Homo sapiens: one gene and its partners. The protein of the gene in region 2 interacts with the protein of the main gene of each other region in a pairwise test. Each region holds a gene or a part of one and is shown on either strand. Other genes may lie near its edges.

Region 1 (5,974 bases), on a different chromosome or scaffold from region 2:
AATCCAGTGTCTCCCAAACGCCTTGTTGAACTGACCCATCCAAATTTACCATTCTATAAATATACTAAAATTACCATTCCAACACATAGCAAAATGATAACTAGAGATTTAAATCTAGTAGTGATCACAGTAGTAAAACATACACCACAAACGATTTTTATTACAAAAGTATTCTAACTCCTACTCAGTATGTGAAACACTTGTAATCACTAAATATCCATTCCTGCTATCAAGCAAAAGGGAGCTACCCAAGACTCACAGATTATAGACTACATCATTGTTTACTTACAGATACTGAGACACTGTTAATTATTACAGCAACATATGGAACAAAGAACAAAATGGATCACCATCTGATTAAGTCATGAATTCTCACTGATGATGTGATTAGCTGGATAGTATGCCACTGATTACATATTAAGTGTCTACGGGCTTTTATAAGCTTCTATATTTTAGTTTTATAGTAGAAATAGTCTCGCTATGTTGCCCAGGCTGGTCTCGAACTCCTAGCCTCAAGCAATCCTCCACCTTGGCCTCCCAAATGTGAGATTACTGGCAGGAGTCACCATACCCAGCCAGCTTGTTTAAATGTTTATATGAGAAATAAAAAGCATGTCGGTAAATCCCACTTAAATTACTCACAGTGAACAGGTAAACCTCCATGCTATATATCAAACCTCATTACCATTATAAGACCGCCTCACACCATTACCAAGACTGCAAACTAATATCTAATGTCATCAGCCAAGAAAGGACACTCAGAGAAACCAGAGGCTTGAACTCCCCAAATCCACTGAGCCATGAATAAGACTGTTTTATCCCGAGTTATCAAAATCAACCTAAACACCACCAAAAATAGGAACAAACCCATTCACACTTCTAGAATCATCTTGTGGAGCAATGAAGAGATGGTAGCTAGTATTAAGGCAGCAACTTTCCGCTTTCACAGTTGGCAAGAATTTGGCCAGCATTCACCCCTTTCATTGAACAGTAACATTGAGAAGGCAGTGCCAATAATCGTAAGGTGATGTTAGACAAGGAATAATCCGATTGTTAAGATCCTCAACAAAGGACAAAGTCAGACTTAACAGAGAAAACAGCACTGGCACCTTCACAACATATTTCTAAAGCCCACAGTGCTCTTGCTGACCATCAGCAGAAAGGCTCAGGCAGGTATCAAAAAATTCACAAGCATCCCAAAGCAACACGGGAGTGTGCAGCACACAACCCTAGTGAAGTCCAAGACAACTGAAGGCAGTCTAATCGATGGGTTTAGGTGATACAAACAGTATTAATAACTCTGGATCAAAGAGAGTGAATTCTCTATCAATCCTGATTAGAAAAAAGAAGAAAGTCTCGGTTTGGTGCTAGACTGTCTTTGACACTTGTCTCATAGTCGCAAATCTTTTAATAGTAACAGAACAGACCTCAGGCAGAGAACCAGCCAGGCAACAACATCTCAGCTAGAACTAATAACATTTGTTTTCACTGTAATTATCTTCAGAGTTACTTTCTAGTTATGGCAAGTATGTATTTATGATAGTAAAAACAATCCTTTTAAGACAAATTTAAATAAAAATTTTGAGTTGATTTAATTTTAAAAATTTAGTATGTAATAGCACAGTTGGTACCTGGTACACAAATAGGACAAAAATGATGGTGATATCAAAATGGCTAGAGCTAGAGCTAGAAAGTGGAGAAGAAAGAGCACTTCGAAGGCAGTAAGGAAGGGTAACAAGCATCATCCTAGCTCTTACTGCTAATTAGTCCTGTGACCTTAGCAAAGTTCTAGCCTCCCTGGGCCTAACTTTCTTCAACTACCAAATGAGAAATGATCTGAGGTGGGTTTTCCAAATTTTTATGGCCTGCATGCCGGCACCACAATTTCTGTCACATCCACAAACCATCTGTACTATTACTAATTTATCTTAAATGGAGAAACTTTTTTTCTTTTTTTTTTTTTTTCACTTTTATGGAAGAGATACATAGGGCAAAGGTTACAGAAGGGGGACACAGAGCTTCCAAGACCTTTCTAGGTACACCACCCTCCCGGCATCTCATATTCACCAATCTGGAAGTTCTCTAAAACCCATGGGTTTTTTGGAGGTTTTATAACACAGGCATGATTAATTACACCATTGCTGATAATCTCTAGCCCCTCTGCCCTCGATGGAGGTAGGAGAAGAGGTTGGGGTAGGGCCAAAACTTCCAACCCTCTAATCATGCCTTGGTCCTTCTGGCCCCCAATCCTGAAGCTACATAGAAGCCCCCCAGCCACAGTCACCTCATTAGGATTAAAAACGACATTATTATCACTCCAGAGATTCCAAGCATCTTAGAAGCTCTTCTGTCAGAACTGGGGACTAAGACCAAACATGGTAACAAAAGATACCCTTATCACCCCATCACTCAAGAAATCGAAAGGGTTTTAGGAGCGACTAAGTATTGAATGTTTCTGTCCCCTACCACATGTATAAGTTGAAATGGTAGCTCCTAATGTGATGGTATTGGGAGGAGGGGTCATCAGGAGGTATTTGGTCATAAGTGCACAGAGTAATTTTTTTTAAATTGAAATATACTTTATTTGATAGGATACTCTAGCATCACTAAAAATGAAAAGCCAGTATTTTTAATACACATTAAAATATACACATAATTAATTTTTGTTTAACTGTGTACCACCTAAAGTTATTTCATACGCAAGTGTAAGATACAGTTTACATTTGCAGCAACAATTATATAGGGCAGCGCTTCCCACTCAGTTTGCTCAGGCGTCACTATGGCACATGGGTGGCAGGTATGGCAAGATATTTGTCCCCTCTACCCTTAAAGTGGCCACACAGGGCTTCAGATTGCTGGAGCTCCTGTGTTGTTTGCTCTTGCCACAAACAGCCTTGTCTGTTTACCCCAATAGGCTGTGTGTGTGACAGCAGCATTTTATGTGTGTGCCATAACATGAGAAAGTTGGGCAGCATTAGCCTAAGGCACCCTTTAACATTGAGATTTTATAATATAGGTATTTCCTTTTCTTCTTTTTTTTTTTTTTTTTTTTTTTTTTTGAGACGGAGTCTTTCTCTGTTGCCCAGGCTGCAGTGCACTGGCGATCTTGGCTCACTGCAACCTCCACCTCCGTAGTTCTAGTGATTCTCCTGTCTCAGCCTCTTGAGTAGGTGGGATTACAGGCCCGCACCACCATGCCCGGCTAATTTGTGTATTTTTAGTGGAGACGGGGTTTTGCCATGTTGGCCAGGCTGGTCTCGAATTCCTGACCCCCCGGTGATCTGCCCACCTTGGCCTCCGAAAGTGCTGGGATTACAGGCGTGAGCCACCGTGCCCGACCTTCTTTTTCTATTTTTATTTTTGATTTTCTTCAGCACCAAGCCCAAAGATCCAAAAAGGGAATGTCAGCATATGCTTTTAGAAATCTAGAAACTCTAACTTTTCAATATCTAAAGGTGACCACAACCACTCAAGAACTAACATATTCCTTTCTAAAACAGGATATAGAAAAAGCAAAAAAAAGAACTGATATATGCGAACGACTGATTTTTTTACTATCATGAAAAGTTTTATCCCAAGTAATCTTACTACTAGTAATGACCTTTTAAAGATTTTTATTAAAGAAAATTCTCTAACATATTCATATAAATACAGTTTTACTCACCAACCATTTTCCTTTTCACGTTTGGATAGCTTCTGTTCCTTATCCACAGAAACATTACAGGAAACACCTAGAAACAGAGAAAGTAACAATAATTTATTAATGTAGTTCGTTATAACATACCTGCAGACAGAGAGTTTCTAATCCAACTTTTTAGAACTCGGAGGACAAAAAATAAGCCCAAAGTCAAACACACAAAAGAGCGGTTTAAAACTAAATGTACTGGGGTCTTCTGGGAAAAGATAGCAGAATAAGAGTTATTTCCAACCAGGCGCAGGGACTCACACCTGTCATCCCAACCCTTTGGGAGGCCAAGGTGAGAGAATGGCTTGGGGCCAGGAGTTCGAGGTCAGCCTGGACAACATAACGAGACTCCATCTCTAAAAAAAAATTTTTAAATAAAAATTTAAGAAAAATTTTAAAAGGTTATTTCCTCCCTTTCCCTGAAAACCACTAACATTAATAGAATGGCTAAAATTAGAGGGGAAAATTCATTCCACAGTAAACTTGGAACAAGTAGAACCTCAAATCACACACTGCAAAGAATTATCTGCCAGATAGTGAAATTGGGTTCCAAACCTAGGAAGATGCAAACAGCCAACACATATATCTCCAGATTTCAAACACAGGGCCCATTTCTCTAAAAGTAACTGAGAGGGTCCTCAGGATCCCAGCCACACATCTTTTACTTGAACAATGACTTGGACAGAGGTCACTGCTGGACTTCAGAGGCAGCAGCAAACATTCCCAAAGAATCCAGCTCTAGGAAACACTAAAGGACAGGGTAGAGGGTGAAGAGAAATGAAGAAGGGACATCTGACCTAAAATGGCCAAAACAGACTCTTGATTTCACGGCCTCCTACAGTCTACCTTAACTCGGTAAACTCCAACTCCATCTACCTGCTTGCTGAAATCAGAAACCAGGGTGTCATCCTTGATTCTTTGTCTCCTCATCCTGCTCCCCTGTATCTACTCCACTGATCCATCCCATCAATTCTACCTCACAAACTTCACTCCAGCCCCCAAACCACCAGCACCACCTCTTGCCTGGACTACTGCCCTGGCTCTTCACTAACCTCCCCACTTCCATACTTGTTCCTCCTTCAATGCTTTCTCCAAAGAAAATGCGGGGTCACATTACTCCCCTGCCTAAGCTAGCATAATAACGTACTCACTAGAACAGATTACTACTCTTTAGAACAGACTACAACGCCTTGCAGTTTCTGATCTCTTCCTTCCTCCCTAAATCTTATCTTTATTCTCTTTAACCAGTCTCAAGGCTTTTGCACCAGCTGCTCAGCACCTGTCAAAAGCAAAGAGCGTGACCAAGAACTGTACCTGCAGCCAAGCTAGCATTCACTTATAAATACAGGAAAATAATCCCAGCACTTTGGGAGGCCGAGGCAGGCGGATCATGAGGTCAGGAGATCGAGACCATCCTGGCTAACATGGTGAAACCCCGTCTCTACTAAAGATACAAAAAAATTAGCGGGGTGTGGTGGCGGGAGCCTGCAGTCCCAGCTACTCAGGAGGCTGAGGCAGGAGAATAGCGTGAACCCGGGAGGTGGAGCTTGCAGTGAGCTGAGACTGCACCACTGCACTCCAGCCTGGGCAACACAGTGAGACTCTGTCTCAAAAAAAAAAAAAAAAAAAAAAAAAAGGAAAATATTTTCTAGCACATAAACTTGAAATTTTCTTGGAGATGTGGACGTGGGGAGCACTAATGATTAATCAAACAATTCAGGAATGAAAAAGCTATTAAGAAGCTTTTTTATGTTAATGAGTACTGGAGTTGGGAAAACAATTTATATAAACTTTATAGGATTGGGTGCTGTAACTCACATCTGTACTCCCAGCACTTTAGGAGGCCGAAGCAGGGGATTGCTTGGGGCCAGGAGTTTGAGATCAGCCTGAGCAACATAGCAAGACTCTGTCTCTACAAAAAATTTAAAGATTAGCCAGGTGTTAGTGTGTATCTGTAGTCCCAAGCTACTTGGGAAGCTGAGCCGGGAGGATAGTTTGAGCAGGCGTTCAAGGTTACATACAGTGAGCTATGATTGCGCCACTGTACTCCAACCTGGGCAACAGAGGGCTGTTAACCCACTATAACCCTATTAAAAAAAAACCTATTAAATAAATAATCCTATTTTAAAAAATCATAGTTAGGCTGTTATAGCTACAGAACAGAATGTAAATGTACAGAATGTAAATGTATAAACCTTGACAAAATGAAAATAATTAAACTAATTCAAATTGGGTAAGGAAGGAATGGAAATGAATCCGAGTTCATTTATTTGTCTTTACTGGGGGGTG
Region 2 (5,974 bases):
AAGCAGCCCTAACTTTTTTTTGCTATAACATAGGATCAAAATCTCTATCCTCCAGGAATGAGAAAAATAATAAAACTAGAATGAACCAAAGATCATTCAGCAATTTAAGTAATTTGACAAATCGTGCAAAGATTTGCAATATTCTTCCAAGTTCAACACCCCAAAAAGTACCTGGTAACACAATCATAGGATAAAAGCAGGGAAAAGGAAAGGAGAAACTCTTATTTGCTGATCACCTACTATGTACCAGGTACTTAATGTAATTAAAAAATATACATTCACCATTTTTAAAAAATTTTATTTAAAAACTTTATGAAACTGCAAATAATTGCCCAAGAAAGGTAGAATATTGTATCACAACTCTTTCACCACACCAAAGAAAATAAAAGTAAGAACAAAATATTATGTTTTCAATTGTGTCCCTGACAGCTATCCACGTAAAAGCCACAGCAACCCTTCTTGGCATCAATATGAATCCTCCCCTTGAAGTATTTTAATTTCATCCTTGCTGAAACACAAAGGATCCTCAAAGTACCTGGATCTGTTCCAAGACATCTCGCTGCATCTCCACTGCCATGTGATAGACATCATGGTCTGAGCTATTGTACATTACAGCATTCTGAAACATCAGCATAATGTCACGCTGAAATTCAGCTGTGCTTCGGATCAGTCCATTTTCTATGTTTTTCTTAATAGTTGACAAATCCATAGGCCTAAAAAAAAAGAACAGGGGTAAGTAGCAGTGGGGATGGAAAGAGGACGCACCTAGATCTATGAATACATTATCATATAGACTTTCTCATATATACCTTAACTCCCAGCTGCCAGGACTTAAATGCTAACCCCTTATCCCAAAACATGCACTTAACCCAAGAAACAATCTATATAATAAGCATTGAGAAAGGTAATAAAGGGAGTTTATTTAGGTTTTTTTTGGAGACAGGGCCTGGATCTGTCACTCAGGCTGTAGTGCAGTGGCACAATCATGGTTCACTGCAGCCTCGAACTTCCAGGCTCAAGCAATCCTTGGTTCACTGCAGCCTCGAACTTCCAGGCTCAAGCAATCCTTCCCACCTCAGCCTCCCAGGTAGTTGGGACTACAAATGCGCGACACCACACCTGGCTAAGTCTTGTATTTTCTGTAGAGAGGGGGTTTCGCCATGTTGCCCAGGCTAGTCTTGAATTCCTGGGCTCAAGTGATTCACCCACCTCAGCACCCCCAAAGATTACAGGCGTGAGCCACCGCTCCTGGTGGAGATTTATTCTTTTAGACTATCAGTGGTGATCTAGCCACTGGAATTATCAGTTTAGCACTCAGTGCCCCTTATAGCAAAACCATAAACTTACTTGCTTTAAACTTTCTATCGAAAGCAAAACTTCACTAAGACTGGACAATTTATAATTCAGGCAAGTTACCATGCTGGGTGGACCATGGCTCACCTCTGCACAATGCTGTGGTAGCCAGGTGCTATGTCATCTGTAACAGGCTGCAGGAAGACATTGGCATACCTGTCCAAAAGGAATAAGGTGCAATTACTGACATTCTCCAGAAGTGCAGGGAGGGAACTTACTCTAAGTAACTAAAGGTAGTAAGAACTAATACCAGCAGTTCCACAGAAGCCTACTCAGACTTTTTTCCAGTCACCAACAATGAAGAGTAGGAGAAAATGAACCTACTGACTGGTAAAGCCCACTCACCTATGATTAGCTGCAGCTCTCCATACAAGCATGATGGCTTTCTTCCAAATTTTCTGTGCCTGAATAGCTTCCTGATCCTCACTACAGACAGAGCTGAAACAGAGATACAGCAATTCCACTAGGCACAAGTTAAAAAATAAAAATTATAATTCTCTTTTCTTTTTGAGACAGGGTCTCACTCTGTCCCCCAGGCTGGAGTGCAGTGGCATGATCATGTTCATTGCACCCTCAACCTCCCAGACTCAATCCTCTCACCTCAGCCTCCCAAGTAGCTGGGACTATAGGTGCATACCACCATGCCCAGCTAATTTTTTAATTTTTTTGTAGAGATAGGGTCTCACTGTGTTGCCCAGGCTGGTCTCGAACTCCTGGGTTCCAGCGATCCTCCTGCCTTAGCCTCCCAAAGTGCTGGGATTACAGGTGTGAGCCACTATGCCCAGCCCTAATTATTTCTTGTCAGCTGTTTATTCCAGGTCAAAAAAGGGAAACACTAAAGAAAAGATCAGGCCAGGCATGGTGGCTCATGCCTCTAATTCTACTGCTTTGGGAGGTCAAGGCAAGAAGACTGCTTGAGGTCAGGAGTTCAAGACCAGACTGGACCACATAGATCCTGTCCCTTAAAAAAATTTTTTTAAAATAAAAATTTAAAAATAAAGAAAAAGGCCAGGCATGGTGTCTCACGCCTGTAATCTCAGCACTTTGGGAGGCCGAGGCAGGTGGAACGCTTGAGCTCAGGAGTTTGAGACCAGCCTGGGCAATGTAGCAAAACTTGGTTTCTACTAAAAAAATTTTTTTTAATTAGCAGGGTGTGGTGGCACAGGCTGGTAGTCCCAGCTACTAAGGAGGCTGAGGTGGAAGGATTGCTTGGGCCTGAGAAGTGGAGGTTGCAGTGAGCTGAGATCGCACCACTGCCCTCCAGCATGGGTGAGTGAGAACAAGAAAAAAGAGAAGGAAAGGAAAGGAAAGGAAAGGGAAAAGAAAAGAAAAGAGAAAAGACAGGAAGGAAGGAAGGAAGGAAAAGATCCTCTCCTCACCTTCACTGCCTTGGCCTCAAAGAAAGAATCTCAGATACTCACAACTGTGAAGAAGCAGGGCTGCTGGGGATGGAGTCTGCCAGTGTGTGTGACTGCAGTGTAGCATTGTGTATGCTGAAGCCATCATCACTCTCGCTCACAGGAGGTTCATTATCCATTTCTGACAAGTAGCCTTCTCCTTGATCCTCTTCCTTAGGCTCCTCTAGGCTGGCCGCTTCACTGACACCATCTTCCTCCTCATCCTCACCTGGGGCATCCTTAGATACAGTATGCTCCAGTTAACAAATGCAAGCAAAGCTATCCAGCAAAGCATCATTAAACATGATCTGTCTTTTGGGTTAGAATTAGTTCTAGAAATGACCTCACGCTGTTTCCTGACTCAGCTGTCTATCACTTATACTACCATCTACTTACAGACACTGCGTTAAGTAATTTAGAACCTGGACAAAGAATAATACCCAGGATCTTTTAAAAAGAAAGAAAAAAAAAAGCTACTTACTTAAGACTAAGCTAAGAGGCGTTCCTTCTTTCCCCTTGCTCGAGAGTAACTCTGACCCTGGGTACAAAGTTATCAAAAATAATTTTTATTTTGTGTCTCATTTGATGGAGCAAGCTCACATCACATTCTTTAAGCCTCTGTTACTGCTGCTTTAATAATTCTAAAAAGAAAACTCTGGATGATTCTCTTTGGATAGTCTAATTAATAAACTTGATTCCTGTATGTTCTCCTTGGCTCAGGTATCCTTATTCACTACAAATCACTCTAAGTGTATCAAGCCTTCTTAAGGACTGTGTGATATTCACATGCTGTTTCATATGGGAGGCACCTGTTGCTATAGTACTCCCATTATGCCTGTCTACTGCAGCTTTTCCCCATGCAACTCCATACCAGTCTCTTATCAGAGAATAAAGATGTGACTTTACTGAAATTCATTAAAAAGTAGTGCTATAGGGAAATCTAATCACATGGCAAGAGGAATAAAGAAAAGTCTGAAATACCTTTATCTGGCTTCCAAAAATAGTCCCTGATTCTTCTTTCAATGAGTCTGCAGAGGAGAGAAAGACTACCTGAAGATTTTTCCACCTTAGCCTTCCCCTTCCTATGGACCATAATCCCCTGCAGCTCTCCTTTACATGCTGACCTGTTCTACCTCCTCTACTTGCCCACAACCCACAACCCCTCAGAAGCCAAAGCAAATGATTTCAAGTCAGTGAAAGAGGACTTTATTTACCTGACATTTCAAACTTGTGCTGAGTCTCTGCCTCTAAAGGATCTTCAATGGGATTTGAGCCATGTGATGGAGACAACATGCTTTCAGGGGATGCCTGAAAACCAGAAAAGAAAAAACACCCTAAGTACTGATAAATCGCTATAGCTCACACAACTTTATTCTTCAGTGATAATGAGACCATAGAAGAAATTCTAAGTCCTACTCATGTAATGTGACTCCAATGGTCACCTTAACAGGAATAAGTATATATAACACTAATCACAGCCTATGGGCTTTGGACACATCAAACATGTCAGAACTCAGGAATGCAACTGGAAAACCAAAAAGCCTAAGCTGTCACTTCTTATCTAAGGTATAAACCTCCATCTCCCCAGCCCCGATCTTTCTTAAGTACCTCTGTCTTCACATTTGTAAGTGGAGTCTCATCGCCTTTCCCAATGGCAACATCTGCTTCAACAATCTCTCCAGCTGCAGTACTTCCCAGTTCCTCATCTAAGTCCTGACTCCTGAGTTCTGGTGGCTCCATACTTGTGGCTGGAACAACTCCAGCTACTATTTCGGCTCCTGAAATGACTGGCTCTGGTTCTGCAGGTTCCACCTTGATCTCTGCACTGGGCTCCCTGATGTCCACCAGTTCATGTATTCCCTTGTTTTCCGTTTCCTCAAAGTCCAGTCTCTCTTGCTTGACCGTCATTTCTGGTGCAGGGAGAGGTACTGGCTTGTCCCGCTCCTGCTGGATAGGATGCTCCCAGGGGCCAGGCAGGGACTGAGGATCATCATTTTCTTCACAAAATGACAGTGCTGCTTCCACTGCTGCCACATCCAGCACTTCAGGATGATCATCTACCTGTCCCACAAAACACAAGACTATTGAGGTCACAGAAAGAAGCCCAAGTCCTTCAATTTTTGTTAGCACCAAATGTGATGGCTTGAATCTGCAGCTTTTCGCTCCATTTTTTCCATGTAGTGGAGGCAAACAATGAAGAGGCACCTGTCCTGTGCAAACCAGTAACATGGGTAGACCTGAGGAGATGACTAGTATGTTAGCACCAAAGGGCTACAAAGATGGAGATGGGCAGAAGTAGGAGAGTTGTTTAAGTAATTCTTACTGTAAGAAGCAAAGCAGCCGAGTATGGTGGCTCATGCCTGTAATCTCAGCACTTTGGGAGGCCGAGGTGGGTGGATCACTTGAGGCCAGGAGTTTGAGACCAGCCTGGCCAACATGGTAAAACTCATCTCTACTAAAAATACAAAAAATTAGTGAGGCGTGGTGGCATGTGCCTGTAGTCCCAGCTACTCAGGAGGCTGAGGCACAAGAATTACTTGAGGCTGGGAGGCAGAGGTAACAGTAAGCCAAGATCGTGCCACTGCACTTCAGCCTGGATGAAAGAGCAAGACTCTGTCTCCAAAAAAAAAAAAAAAAAAGCAGCAGCAGCACCAAAGTGAGGCTGAAAAGAGAAGCCTATGTAGGACCCATGAGATTCTCTGGGGCTTCGCTGAATAGTTACCTTGTCCTCAATGATGGCAATGATGTCTCCAACAGTCTCAAAATCCAGCTCTTCACCTGTGTAAGACACAGCAATATCCATCTTCTCAGCCAGATCTAATTCTTCCTTCCCATCTATGCTGGGAGCCTTTGATCCAACAGGAGCCTCTGCTACCCCTGATCGAAAACACTCTTCTTTGATAGAATTGATGATCATGGATATTTCACTGCTGTCCATGGAAACAGTCACAGTATGTGGATCCCCCACAGCCTCCATGGGAACACAGTTGTCGGGTTGACTCACTGAGTAACAGAAAGAGAAAAGCATCTCAGAAGCTTATTGGGTACAAAGCGACCACCTTGAGATCACATAAGCGCTACAGACAGATGTCAAATATCCAAACACTTAAGGTCAGAAAGAGTCATCAACATGTGCCTATGTTTTCTTCTCCCCAGTTTTATCTAGAAAGGTGAGAACATATTTTCAAGCCTGCTCATATCTGTATACTTAGCCTCTTCCTGCA
Region 3 (5,974 bases), on a different chromosome or scaffold from region 2:
TGCTTTTTATTGCACTGAATCTCTTTTGTGGGAGGAAGAAGGTGGCTGTGATGTTTGTCCATGGCTCTGAACAAAACAGCTGGAAATGAACACAACAGTTGTTCATCTCTCCCTTTCTCCCACATTTAGCACCTTCTCCCCCCATTATTAAAACCAAAGAGATAAGGAGCTGTGAAGAGGCTGTGCTGATTTGCTGGGAGTCTGGGAACCTGAATCCTGTGGACTCGTACACTGTGGAGCTGACCCAGGCTGAAAGTCCAGAAGCCTCGGGTGTAACTGAGTGAGTCATGAGGGCATTTGCTGGGCACGAGAGCCCTGACACCTGATACAGTGACATGGCTTAGGAAGTATACGGAGTCTGAAGAGAAGGTTGGCATTTTTGATACACAGGAATCTCAATTTTTGGTTGCTTAGTGTTCATGAGAAGTAGCTGGAATGCTATTACTGAAGGTGAATGACAAGTGAATGAATAAGTTGGTTGAACCTCAGGTTTTGTTGTTGTTGTGGTTGTTGTTTTAGCTCAAGTAAGGTTTCCCATTCATTCATTCATTCATTCATTCATTCAACATGCATTGAGTGCCTGGGTGGTGTCAGGTCCTGTGCAAGGCACTGGGAACTAGATGGACAAATTTCCTGCCCTAATGGGGCTGACAGTCTGGTGGGAAAATAGACAAAAGGCAAGAAAACAAACCAATGTGTAAAATATACAGTGCTAGGAAGGAAAAAGAAATGTAATAAAACAGAGAATGGTGGTGGAGGTGAGGATCCACTTTGGATAAAGAAGATGTTTAAACTGAGACCTGAACATATGGGAAAGACTGAGCCCCAAGAACAGCGAATGCAGGGGTGCTTCGGGGGGAGGGGGCTGCATGAACACAGGCCCTGGGGCAGGAGTGAGCTGCTGGAGGAACTAAAAGACCCACCTAGCTAGAATTCAGAGAGGTGAGGGTGAAAGCCATAGGCGAAAACAAAAGAGATTGCAGCTGAATGTACAAAGAATGTTTCATCTATCACAGAAGACTGTCTGGAAGCTCATGTTCACCCCTCATTCTCAGAGAGCTAGAGGGGTTCACAAATTGATAAGGGTTGGACTCAGTGACCACAAGGGCTCGCAGAACCTATGAGTTTACAGCAGCCTATGATGGAGGAAGCATAGGTTTACCTCTGGTTTACAGAAGTTTGTGAAAGGGGATGAACCACCCAGGCAGGCCAGCACCAGCCACCAGGACCAGGGGCTCCCCTGCTGTGGAACACAGGGGTGCACTGACCTGGAGCTGGAGAAATGAAGAGGTGTTGGTGTCAATTGTTAGGGAAGCAGATTCTTCTATGCTAAATGCCAGGCTTGAAACGTGGCCATATGCCACCCATCCATCTGTTCCAGGTGGAATCTGTGTGTCCATGGCCACACAGAGGCTGACTTTGGTAATCCACTCTGGAGATACTCAGGAGTGGGGCAGTGTGTCCAGTGGTTCTGGCCATCCTAATGGTTCAGGTTTCCTTTGCAATTTATGCTGATACTTTAGGAGCACTTGACACCTGGGACCAACTCACAATGATGAGGTCATCAGAGGGCTGGTCAGTAACCTGAGAGATGACCTGAGAGCTGGTGCATATTCTTCCAGTACAAATCCAATCATGGCGACCCATTGCTGAAGAAAAGGCAAAACTCCTTCACAGGCTCTGGCCCCTTCCTGCCTCTCCAGCTCCTCCCACACCAGCTCCCCTCCCTCTCAAGATCCCACCACATTGGTCATGTTTCAGTTCCTCCTACTTTTCATGCTCCTTCCTGCCACAGGGCCTTGGCACATGCTTCTCCTATGTAGGAGACTCCTCTGTCCCTTTTTCATCCAGTTACCTCCTCAGCATTCTTCAGAGCTCTGCTCAAAAGCCATCCTGCCCCCACCATTATACACTACAGCACACTATCAACTTGTCTTGGTTACCATCTTACATTCCTTCCAGTGATTGCCTGAAGAATGCTGCTCTTCCCATCTAGACTGTAAGCTCTATGAGGGCAGGAACTACATTTGTTTTTTCTGAGGGCCTCCCTATACAGTGCCTGGAACCTAAGGAGTTTAGTTAACATTTATTGAATGCATAAGTAAAAGTGCCCCTCTGGCCCAGAGCTGCAGCCTGAAGATAACCTGGACAACTTGGCCTCATCTGGGTGAGGGTGTTGTATTGGTAAATGGGCATCATCCTAAAGACTTCTCTTGCCCACTGGACTGACATGGGGTTGGCAACCGCAGCAATATAGACAGTGGCAATTATGAGCTTATATTTCTGTATAGTACAATTTAAATACATTGGATTATTTCCAATAGGCAGCTGTTAGGGGGTTAACAGCAGTTAACACTTTCAGCTCTAGTCAGAATTGTTTGCTCATAAACATAAATCAAGGACCTTTTTTTTTTTTTTTTTGAGACAGTCTCACTCTGTCGCCCAGGAGTGCAGTGGCGTGATGATCTCGGTTCACTGCAACCTCCAACTCCCAGGTTCAAGCAATTCTCCTGCCTCAGCCTCCTGAGTAGCTGGAATTACAGGCACCTGCCACCACACTCGGTTAATTTTTGCATTTTTAGTAGAGACGGGGTTTCACCATGTTGGCTAGGCTGATCTCGAACTCCTGACCTCAAGTGACCCACCCGCCTCAGCCTCCCAAAGTGCTGGAATTACAGGCATGAGCCATTGCACCTGGCTGAATTGACGGCCTTCTATGGGCCCAGTACTGTACTAAGAATAGCGGTACTCAGCCCCTGACCTCAGAGACATTATGATCCTAACAGACGGACAGAGACACACTGGATTCTACTGCATGCACACTCCATGATGCAGTGTTAACCATATGCCAAGCACAGTGCTGGGTGCCTGGGAAACCAGAATGAGGGACTTGGAGAGGAGACAGCCACAAACACAAGAAGTAGCAATGAAGTGAGAAAAGCAGACCAGAGACTGTGGGAGGGAATGCAGAGGGGGAGCCAGCACTCCTGGCTATGCTGCTGTTAAATGTGGGTCAGAGGACAGGAGCGCAAGAGTGAGTTAAACCTTCCAGCTTTGAAAGGGATGCCTGGTGCTTGGGCCTGGGTGTCCTAGCCCCATTCTGACTGCAGCTCTGCTTCCTTGTACAGGTCTGTTGTGGGCATCCCGACCTGCGAGTCCGTGGTGCAGCTGCAGCCGGGGCGGAGCTACATTATCTATGTGCGAGCCCTCAATATGGGGGGCCCCAGCGTGAGGAGCGAGCCAGCTACAGTCCACACCATAGGTCTGTGCCCCAGCCCACAAAGTCTCTGGGACCCAAAGTGGCCACTCTGTGGCAGACCCAGTGCTGCTATGACTTCACTGGGAAATTGATGAATATGCACAGATGTGGACACGTGGCAAGTCAGGCCAGAAGGAGTTCAGGGGTGTCCCATACTGCCCTAATTGCAAGTCAAATGGATCATTAAGAAGTCCTTCAATTCCTATTTCCCTTGGCAAATAGGTTAGAAATTCTTATCCATACACAGGCATTACAGCTAGAGGTAAAGAGCACAGCCTCTGGAATCAGAGGGGCTTGGGGTTCAAGTTTAAGTTCTATCATTTGCCAGCTGATTTCTTAACCACCTTGTGCCTCTGTTTCCTCATCTACAAAATGGAAATAGTGACACCTGTTTCTAAGGGTCGTCGTGAGGATTGAAGGGGATACTAGGCACACAAGACTGCCCGATGAGTGTCAATTGCCATCCTTGTTAACTGGACGCCTATTACTAGGCCAGGTCCAGGCTTAGGTGTATCCCACACGAAGCTAAACCGGTGACCACCGCCCACATGGAGAAAGCAAGTGATTGGCTGCGGGTCTTCTGTGTGTTCCTCCTCCCACAGGAAGCTACTTTCGCCTAAACAAGGACACTTGCCATCCCTGGCTGACCATTTCTGAAGACGGACTTACGGCTGTACGAAGTGAAAGGAGAACCCCCGCCAGGGAGCTGTCACCCAGCGACACTCACTTCACCAGGTACTTTGTCAACCGCTCACAAGGGCGTTCTGTGAACTTCCCGAAGGTGCACTGTTATTCAGGTCAAATCCGAATATGGCACGGAGGCAGCCTCGAGGGAAAAGGAATCCTACAAATGAGTGAGGAGGGAGGAGCCTAATGGGGAGGGGACCCAGAGGAGTGTGGGCAAGAGGGGTCAGGCAGGTGCAGGCAGAAGAGCCCCCTGGGACGGTGAGGTCAGGAGAGGGCGCGGTCCCCTGGGAGGGCATGGTCCCTGGGTCCTAGGCTGCCAGAGCTGGAGCAGCCAGAGGTCATGAGGGTGGGACAGGAATTACTAGTGGAGGGTGTCCAAGTTCTTGGCGTTCTGAACAAAGAATTGGACAAAATGCACAAACAAAGCAAGGAAAGAGGCCAGGCACGGTGGCTCATGCCTGTAATCACAGCACTTTGGGAAGCCGAGGCAGGCAGATCACCTGAGGTCAGGAGTTTGAGACCAGCTTGGTCAACATGCTGAAACCCCATCTCTACTAAAAATATAAAAATTAGCCGGGCCTGTTGCGGGTGCCTGTAATCCCAGCTACTCGGGAGGCTGAGGCAGAAGAATTGCTTGAACCCGCGGGGCGGAGATGGCGCCACTACACTCTAGCCTGGGCAACAGAGTGAGACTCCTTCTCAAAAAAAAAAAAAAAAAAAAGCAAGTAAAGAATGAAGCAACAAGAGCAGAGATTTATTGAAAACGAAAGCACACTCCACAGGGTGGGAGTGGGCCAAGCAAGCGGCTTAAGGGCCGGGTTACAGAATTTTCTGGGGTTTAAATATCCTCTAGAGGTTCCCACTGGTTACTTGGTGTACACCCTATGTATATGAAGTGGCTAAAGTGAAGTTACAAAGTCATTTACTGGGTGTACACCCTATGCAAATGAAGAGGATGTTTCCTGCCATGCTGAAATACAAAGCTATTTACTTGGACTTAGAAGGTTGGGGTTTTTCCGTTTAATTTAGTTCTAGGAAGTCCTTAGGTTCCCTGCCCCCAGACCCTGTTCTCCTGCTTCACAGGGGTCATGCTGTGGGCTAGTGGGAGAACAGAAACAAGGACCCAGGTCTCCCACCAGTTAGCCCAGTGCTCTCTCTCCTGCACTGTGGTACCTTACAGCAAAACTCCTGATGGAAAACTGGCCATGGAGTGAGTCTGTTCCAAAGTTCAAGGCAGATAATTGCTTTGTACATGTACATATGAAAGAAGCCGGAAAGATCATGTTTGGAGAAATATAAGGAATTTGGTATGTCTGCGGTATAGGATCCATGACGGGAAGAGGTGGAAGATGAGGCAGGAAAGTCGGAGAAAGTCCAGTATACACACAAAAAGTTAGGATTTTATCCTCTATGTGGTGAGAATTATTGGAGGATTTAAAGCAGGGGAACAAGATCAGATTACATTTCAGAAAGATTCCAGTGCATGGTAGAACGTGAGCTGGGGAGGGAGAGGGAAAGGCAAAGGCAGATGGGAAACAGAGACCAGAGAGGAGACTATGGAGGGCTTGACTACGCAGTAGCATGGGTGAGAGGAGCCAGGGGAGTCAACTGCTGTTGAGCACATAAAACCAACAAGGCTAGGTGCTCACCTGTTTAAAGGGCAACAGAGAGGAAGATGAGTCAGGGACTATCATATTGCCATATTTATAGAGTGCTTACCAAGTGCTAAATGTATTTCATCTCATGCAATCATCCTAACAGCCCTGTACTATTACCAATCCCAGTTGACGGATGAGAATACTTAAAACACAGAGAAGTAACTTGCCCAAGAGTATAATGCTATTAAGGGTTGAAGCAGGAATCAAACTAGAAGGTGAGCTTGTAGCCACTACATTATTCCCATCTTAGTTTTCCACCAGGGGGTTACCGGGTAGATAATGACTCTATTAACCAAAATGGAGATGTGAGAAGTATGTACCCCTCCCCACTACACCCCAAACTTTGGTAGATAAGAGGGGTGGGAATATG
Region 4 (6,418 bases), on a different chromosome or scaffold from region 2:
TATTTTGGAAGACAATTTTGATTTTCATATGCAAGAAAGTTTTTCCTCATCTGAGCATCTGCTTTGATAAGAAGAAAAATCCCATAGCAAATATTTTAATGTTAATACAACCACAGCTAGCAGCAATAGTCACTAGTCCTTTTATGACTGTTCCAAACATATACTCTGTTTTCTATTTCCAGTTGTCTAATTTGTCACTAACGTAATAACTAGGGAAACATCTGGCAATTTATAGTTCTTTAAATTATAAGATTTTTTTTCTGTGATTGAAATATTGCATTTTAGAGCTTTAATAGGATAATGGTAGTCACTTGCCAATTTAGTTGAATATTACCTTAAGTCCCTATAGATATTCCTTGATTTAAGATGGCTTTATATATTAAGCTATTAAAAAGTTGATTTTTAGAAGCTAAAGTTCATATTATGAATAAAACAAAATGTAAAGTGATAGCTAAATTTAGGATACAAATCGATCAAATTTACTGTTGCTTATCAGAGATTGAGTATACTGCTTTAACAAGCAGCTACAGTGAAAAGAAACACAAACCACATAATCCAATGATCTTAGGCAATTTTGAAAAAGAAACATTAGGAGAATTTTGAAGGAAACTAATAGCATTTTCCAATCATCACGTGTTGGAAAGCTGATTTGTCAGTTTGCTAGATAACATGGGAGAAAAGTGTTCCTAAGCTGGGCTTGGACACTTGGTCACATTGTGTTGCTCTGGCTCCATATTTGTTTATTGACACAGCATATCTTCAAAACAACGTTTTAATCTTTACAACACTTGGACTGACTTCAAACTTCTAAACACAATTCTTAATTTGGTAGCCTACTTGGGAGACTCTTTGGCATTCTCCAGTCATGACTGACCAGAAAAAGGGCTAGGTAAACTAATAAGCATGCGGCTAGAGGGCAGGAGCTCGCATTAAGCAGCCAAAACACCTAAATGTGAGGGGTCACTATTTTTGTCCCTGTAACAAATTCGAAAGCAAAATACAGCAACTCTCAGTTATCTGCTTGAAAGGACACTGTGGCAGCACAGATAAAATGACAGCAGACATGCATCATGCATTTAAACTATGAGTTTTAAATTCCTTCTCAGCTAAGCATTTTACCTGGGCTTTGGGTAAGTAGCAGAGTAAACTTTTCTTCCTTATTTTCCCTCTAGCATAGGGGAAAATTAGTCATTAGTATTAATTAGTCATAATTGAAATAATAACAGCAGTCGTAAGTAGCAGCAGGAACAAAAAACCAAAACAAAATTATATACACAAATACTCACACAACTCTGATCCCAAACTAGAAAGAAGAAAAAGAAAAGTGAGAAACCTGAACAACCCACAAATCTGCCCTTTTCTGAATACTGACCCACGATAAGAGAGAGAAAGACTGAAGCTTAGAATGCTGTGGGACAGCAGCATTGCCGCAGCACCTGTGACTGAAAGACATTTTGCAAATCGCAAGGAAGACAAGTCTTCCATTGGCATCAGTGGAACCGGTGGAAGAAAACCAATTTTATTCTGAGTTGGATGATGGAAGAGTTGATTCAGTTTAAGGTCAAAGAAGAGCAGAACCAGAAATCAAGGCCTCAGGATGGGAACAAAGAACAATGAAGTCAGGGGGAAAAAAGGTGGCGGGGAGAGAGAGTGGGTAACAGACTTGAAACTAAGAATCACAAAACTTAAGCAAATGTTGAGACCTAGCAATTATGATGGGCAGTTTCTATAACCTAGCCTTAAGCTTAGACTTTTATTTTAAAGCAATAACCAAAACAAAAGAAATTAAGGAATTATATCACTGGAGGGAACCTTATGGGCAGAGACTTGAGGTTCAGAGTTGTGAAATAATGCTCTTACTATCACACAGCAAGTTAAGTGGGAGTCTCCATTTCCCTTCTCCCCATGCTTTCCTGCCCCTGCACTGTCAGGAAGGGTGGTGGAGAGGAAGGAGAAGGTACCAGGGCACCCGGGAATACATCACAGCCTGAGGACAGGTTATGCAGGTGGGGCCTTTATAGCTAGGGAAACACCGGAGAAGACAAGGGAAGTATGGCAGTTTCTTCCTTAGAGAAGACTTATAAGGGGGTTAAAGCATATGCTATGTGAAATAAACACCTGGAGATCCAAAACCCTCAGGTGGTAACTAATAATAAGAGAATCATGTTGGGATGCAGCATCTTCAGCGGGAAGCACAAGTTGCTCAACAAAGTAATAAAATAGATCAATAGGGTGCCAAATTTCTTGCCTCTATTACTTTCTCTTCTCAGAATGACACAGGAAATAAATGTAGCCAAGTCCCAAATCTGATCCCAGTACCCAAACTTTCATTAAAAGAGGGCTCCTGAAGGGGGGGAGTAGGTTTTTAATACTTAACGAGGCTATCAGCAAACAAAGAGAAGAGGCCCAGGTGGGCTCAATAGCCAGGTCACAAATGGTTGCCCAAAGAAAAAAACGGTGCAGAAGGAGACGCTTTGGGGAAGAATTGCTGAGGTCTTCGGGAGACTATAGCAGGCTGGCACTATGGAGATGTTTACCTGGACATTTAAGAAAATTGGAGGATGGAGTTGGGTGTCGGGCAGTGGCCTGCCAGAGGCTCTGTTTAGTCCTGGAAGCAGGAGACCTTTTGCTAAAATTCTGTCTCAGTTACACACATGCATTGGCTAAGGCTGTAGGGATTGGGGTGTGGAGACATCTTGCTTCTCCTTCCTCAGTTTGATTATTCAAAGGACATCTGGGAACCCTGAGGGTGGGAGAGTTTGGCCAAGGTTGGAGCGATGTCCCGTGTCTAGGACCCACCGCTATGGTTTGCAGGGAGAGAGCTAAAGGGACGTGAGCAGTGCAGGGACATTGACTGGGAAGCAGAGGGCGTGGATGGAGACACTCTTAACTTCACCTCAAAAGTAGCACAACTTTTAAACGAACGCCTTGCAGAGTCATACCGGCTTCCCGCTCAGATGATGGCTAAAATACAAGAGTTAACTAAAAGCCTCAGGAAGAAAGTTTATTGAATTGCATCTTATTTCTGTAGATTTCTTCCTTGCACTCGGAAGAGTTTGGTTAAAATGGATTGAGAATTTCGAGGCACGTGGCAAACAAACCTACCTTGTTCCCTCCCATTCCAGAAGCCCCTCACCTGATTTGGGAAAGTGTGGCCAGCTCCAGGGGCAGGCGCTGACCAGAACTACGGTCGCTCTTTCCTTGGTCCCCGAGAGCTTCCCAGTATAGAGCCAGCAGTTAGGACACCGTGACATGAAACTTAGCACCCCGCCCTTGAAGTCCCCCAAGCATGCCTGGCGGTCCGCGCGGACTCACCCGCGCCCCGGGCGCTGCGTCACGTCCCGCCGAGGGCCGGCTGCGCTGGTGCGGGTCTCCCGCCCGCCGCCTCGGCGTCCCGGCTGTGCGCCCTCACTCGCTGGGTCCGCTCCAGCCGCTCCCCATCGATCACCGCCGCGGCCCGGCAGAGCTGCTAGCGGCGCGCCGGTCCAGACGTCCTGTCACTCGCTGCTGCCTGGGGTCCTGGCTGTCAGGCGCTGGAATCATTGGCGAGGAGGCAGCTCCGAATTTATAGTGAGGGGCGTTGCTGCTTCTTGGGTTCCGGGGACGAGGCTCTGTTTTGCATTCCCTCCTCCTCCGCCCCGCCCCGGGAGACCCTCCCGGCCCAACCTCCTCCCTCTCGGGATATTGACGGCAGCAAGGATGATGCCACAGTCGTCCCGTGTCAACTATCAGATCAGCGTTCACCTGGTCCCGAACCCCGCCTAGCGAGGGGTCGTGAGGGAGAGCGAGCTGGGGGTACAGGAGTATCATTTCCTGCGGAGATTCGTGTTCTTCAACATTTTTTTTTTCTGAACTTGGAAAACTTTTAAGGACGAATTAGAGAACTTCTTTCTCTTTCCTATGAGTAACTCGAACTTTGGTAATACAGTTGTGGATCATAGATTACATGGATTAATTCCAGGGTTATGAAATTCAAGGGTGGACACTCATTTGTTCCTATTGGACATGCTACCCAAGTTGCATTTTAAAAATGTATTTTAAAAACCCAATAAATATTTAAAGAAGAAATAATATCAATTCTTCACAAACTCTTCCAAAAAATAGAAGAGTAAGGATGATCTCCCAACTCATGCTATGAGGCCAGTATCACCCTGATAACAAAACCAGATAAAGACATCACGAGACTACAGATCAATATTTCTTAAGAGTATAGATAAAAATTCTCAACAAAATGTAGGCAAATTGAATCCAATAACATATGAAAGGGACTATACACCATGGTCAAGTGAGGTTGATGCCAGAAAGCAAGATTAGATTAGTTTACCAAAAATCAATTAATGTTAGATAGGTGAGTAGGGTGACTGTAGTTTACAGTAATCTATTGTATATTTCAGAGTAGCTAGGAGAAAATAACTTGAATGTTTCTAGCATGAAGAAAAGACAAATATTTAAGGTGATGGATATGCCAATTGCACTGATTTGATCTTTATATGAATGCATTAAATTATTGCATGTACCTAAAAAGTCCTGTCACTCGCTGCTGCCTGGGGTCCTGGCTGTCAGGCGCTGGAATCATCGGCGAGGAGGCAGCTCCGAATTTATAGTGAGGGGCATTAAATTATTGCATGTACCTAAAAAGTGTACATCTATTGTGTATCAATAAAAATAAATTTAAAGAAGTAAAAAATGGACAAAGCCTACATGATTGTCTAAAAAAATTTTTAAAAACTATTGGACAAAATTCAACACTTTTTCATGCTAACACTCAACAAACTAGGAATAGGAACTTCCTCAAACTGTGAAGTTTATTTATGAAAAACTTAACTAATATCACACATAATAACGGAAGACAACGTTTTTATGTCTAAGATCAGGAACAAGACAAAATGTCTAGTCTTCCCATTTCTATTTAACTTTGTACTAAAGGTTCTAGTGAGGGCAATTGGACAAGAAAAAAAGATAAATGGCATCCAGATTAGAAAGAAAGTAAAACAATTTCTATTTGTAGATGACATGATCTTGTATTAAAAAGCCCTAAGGAATCAATTAATTAACTATTAGAACTAAGAAACAAGTTGAGCAAGTTTTTAGAATACAAGATCAATATACAAAAATCAGTTGTATTTCTATACACTAGCAATAAACAATCAACAAATGGAATTAAGAAAACAATTCCACTGTTGGCTTCTCACCACTTGCTGTGTGGGTCTGTGTCCTCTCCCTGCCTCACATGCTGCCATGCCTCAAAAAGTTAAGGAGATCAAGGACTTTCTGCTTACAGCCAGGTGAAAAGATGCCAGATCTGTCAAGGTCAAGAGAAATAAGGATAATGTGAAGTTTAAAGTTTGATGCAGCAGATACCTTCATACATTAGTCATCATAGACAAAGAGAAGGCAGAGAAACTGAAGCAGTTCTGGCACCCTGGTTTGTTAGAGAAGGAGATGAAATCAGACACACTGATTTGAACTGTGTTAAAAATTTAAAAATTCAAAGATAAAAACAATTTTACTTACTATAGATCAAAAGAGTAAAAATACTAAGAAATGACCTGGTGTAGTGGCTCACTCCTGTAATCTCAGCACTTTGGGAGGCCGAGGTGGGTGAATCACAAGGTCAGGGATTCGAGACCAGGCTGGCCAACATCGTGAAACCCTGTCTCTACTAAAAATGCAAAAGAAAAAAAAAAAAAAAAAGCCAGGCGTGGTGGTGCATGCCTGTAGTTCCAGCTACTCAGGAGGAGGAGGCTGAGGCAGAAGAATCGCTTGAACCCAGGAGGTAGAGGTTGCTGTGAGCTGAGATTGTGCCACTGCACTCCAGCCTGGGTGACAGAGTGAGACTCCATCTCAAAACAAACCAACCAACCAACAAAACAAAACAAAACAAAAAAAACCCTAAGAAATAAATTTAACAAAAGGATCTAAAACTTGTAGTCTGAAAACAAACAAAAAGAATTGTTGAAATAAGGTAGACCTAAATAAATGGAATGACATTCCATGTTCTTGGATTGAAAGATTTAATATCGTTACAATGGCATTAATCTTCAAATGATCTACAGGTTAAACAAAATCTCTATCAAAACCCAGCAAGCTTTTATTGCAGAAATGAATGGAGTTATCCTAAAAACATGTAGCAGTGCGAGGGGCCCAGAATAGTCAAGACAATTCTGAAAAAGAACAAACTTACCAATTTCAAAATTTACTGCAAAATTACAATAAACAAGACAATGTGGTACTGGCATAGCAATAGATAGAAAGATCAATGGAACAGAATTGTGTCCACAAACTAAACCCTTACATTTATGAGCCACTAGATTTTGAAAAGGGTTGAAAAAATGCAGAATGAGTAATCTTTATTACAAATGGTACTGGAATAATTGGATATCTGCATGCAGAAGAATGAAGTTGGACTCCTTATAAT

The links.
Region 1: the proteins of BRD8 (region 2) and MIS18A interact in binary tests that used the Homo sapiens proteins (3 or more experiments, as listed by UniProt).
Region 3: the proteins of BRD8 (region 2) and FSD2 interact in binary tests that used the Homo sapiens proteins (3 or more experiments, as listed by UniProt).
Region 4: the proteins of BRD8 (region 2) and AGTR1 interact in a two-hybrid assay, tested with the Homo sapiens proteins (one large-scale study listed by BioGRID and IntAct).

What each region holds. Positions count from the first base shown.
Region 1 is NC_000021.9:32,271,166-32,277,139, forward strand, and holds part of MIS18A (protein Mis18-alpha), read right to left. Parts: intron 3,732-5,974; coding exon 3,665-3,731; intron 1-3,664. UniProt on the Homo sapiens protein: Required for recruitment of CENPA to centromeres and normal chromosome segregation during mitosis.
Region 2 is NC_000005.10:138,160,356-138,166,329, forward strand, and holds part of BRD8 (bromodomain-containing protein 8), read right to left. Parts: intron 5,754-5,974; coding exon 5,473-5,753; intron 4,812-5,472; coding exon 4,359-4,811; intron 4,059-4,358; coding exon 3,965-4,058; intron 3,779-3,964; coding exon 3,732-3,778; intron 2,990-3,731; coding exon 2,775-2,989; intron 1,792-2,774; coding exon 1,699-1,791; intron 1,510-1,698; coding exon 1,441-1,509; intron 714-1,440; coding exon 536-713; intron 1-535. UniProt on the Homo sapiens protein: May act as a coactivator during transcriptional activation by hormone-activated nuclear receptors (NR). Isoform 2 stimulates transcriptional activation by AR/DHTR, ESR1/NR3A1, RXRA/NR2B1 and THRB/ERBA2.
Region 3 is NC_000015.10:82,763,186-82,769,159, reverse strand, and holds part of FSD2 (fibronectin type III and SPRY domain-containing protein 2), read left to right. Parts: intron 1-129; coding exon 130-280; intron 281-3,128; coding exon 3,129-3,262; intron 3,263-3,861; coding exon 3,862-3,994; intron 3,995-5,974.
Region 4 is NC_000003.12:148,695,025-148,701,442, reverse strand, and holds the start of AGTR1 (type-1 angiotensin II receptor), read right to left. Parts: upstream 3,541-6,418; 5' UTR 3,316-3,540; exon of another isoform or gene 3,294-3,315; intron 1-3,293. UniProt on the Homo sapiens protein: Receptor for angiotensin II, a vasoconstricting peptide, which acts as a key regulator of blood pressure and sodium retention by the kidney.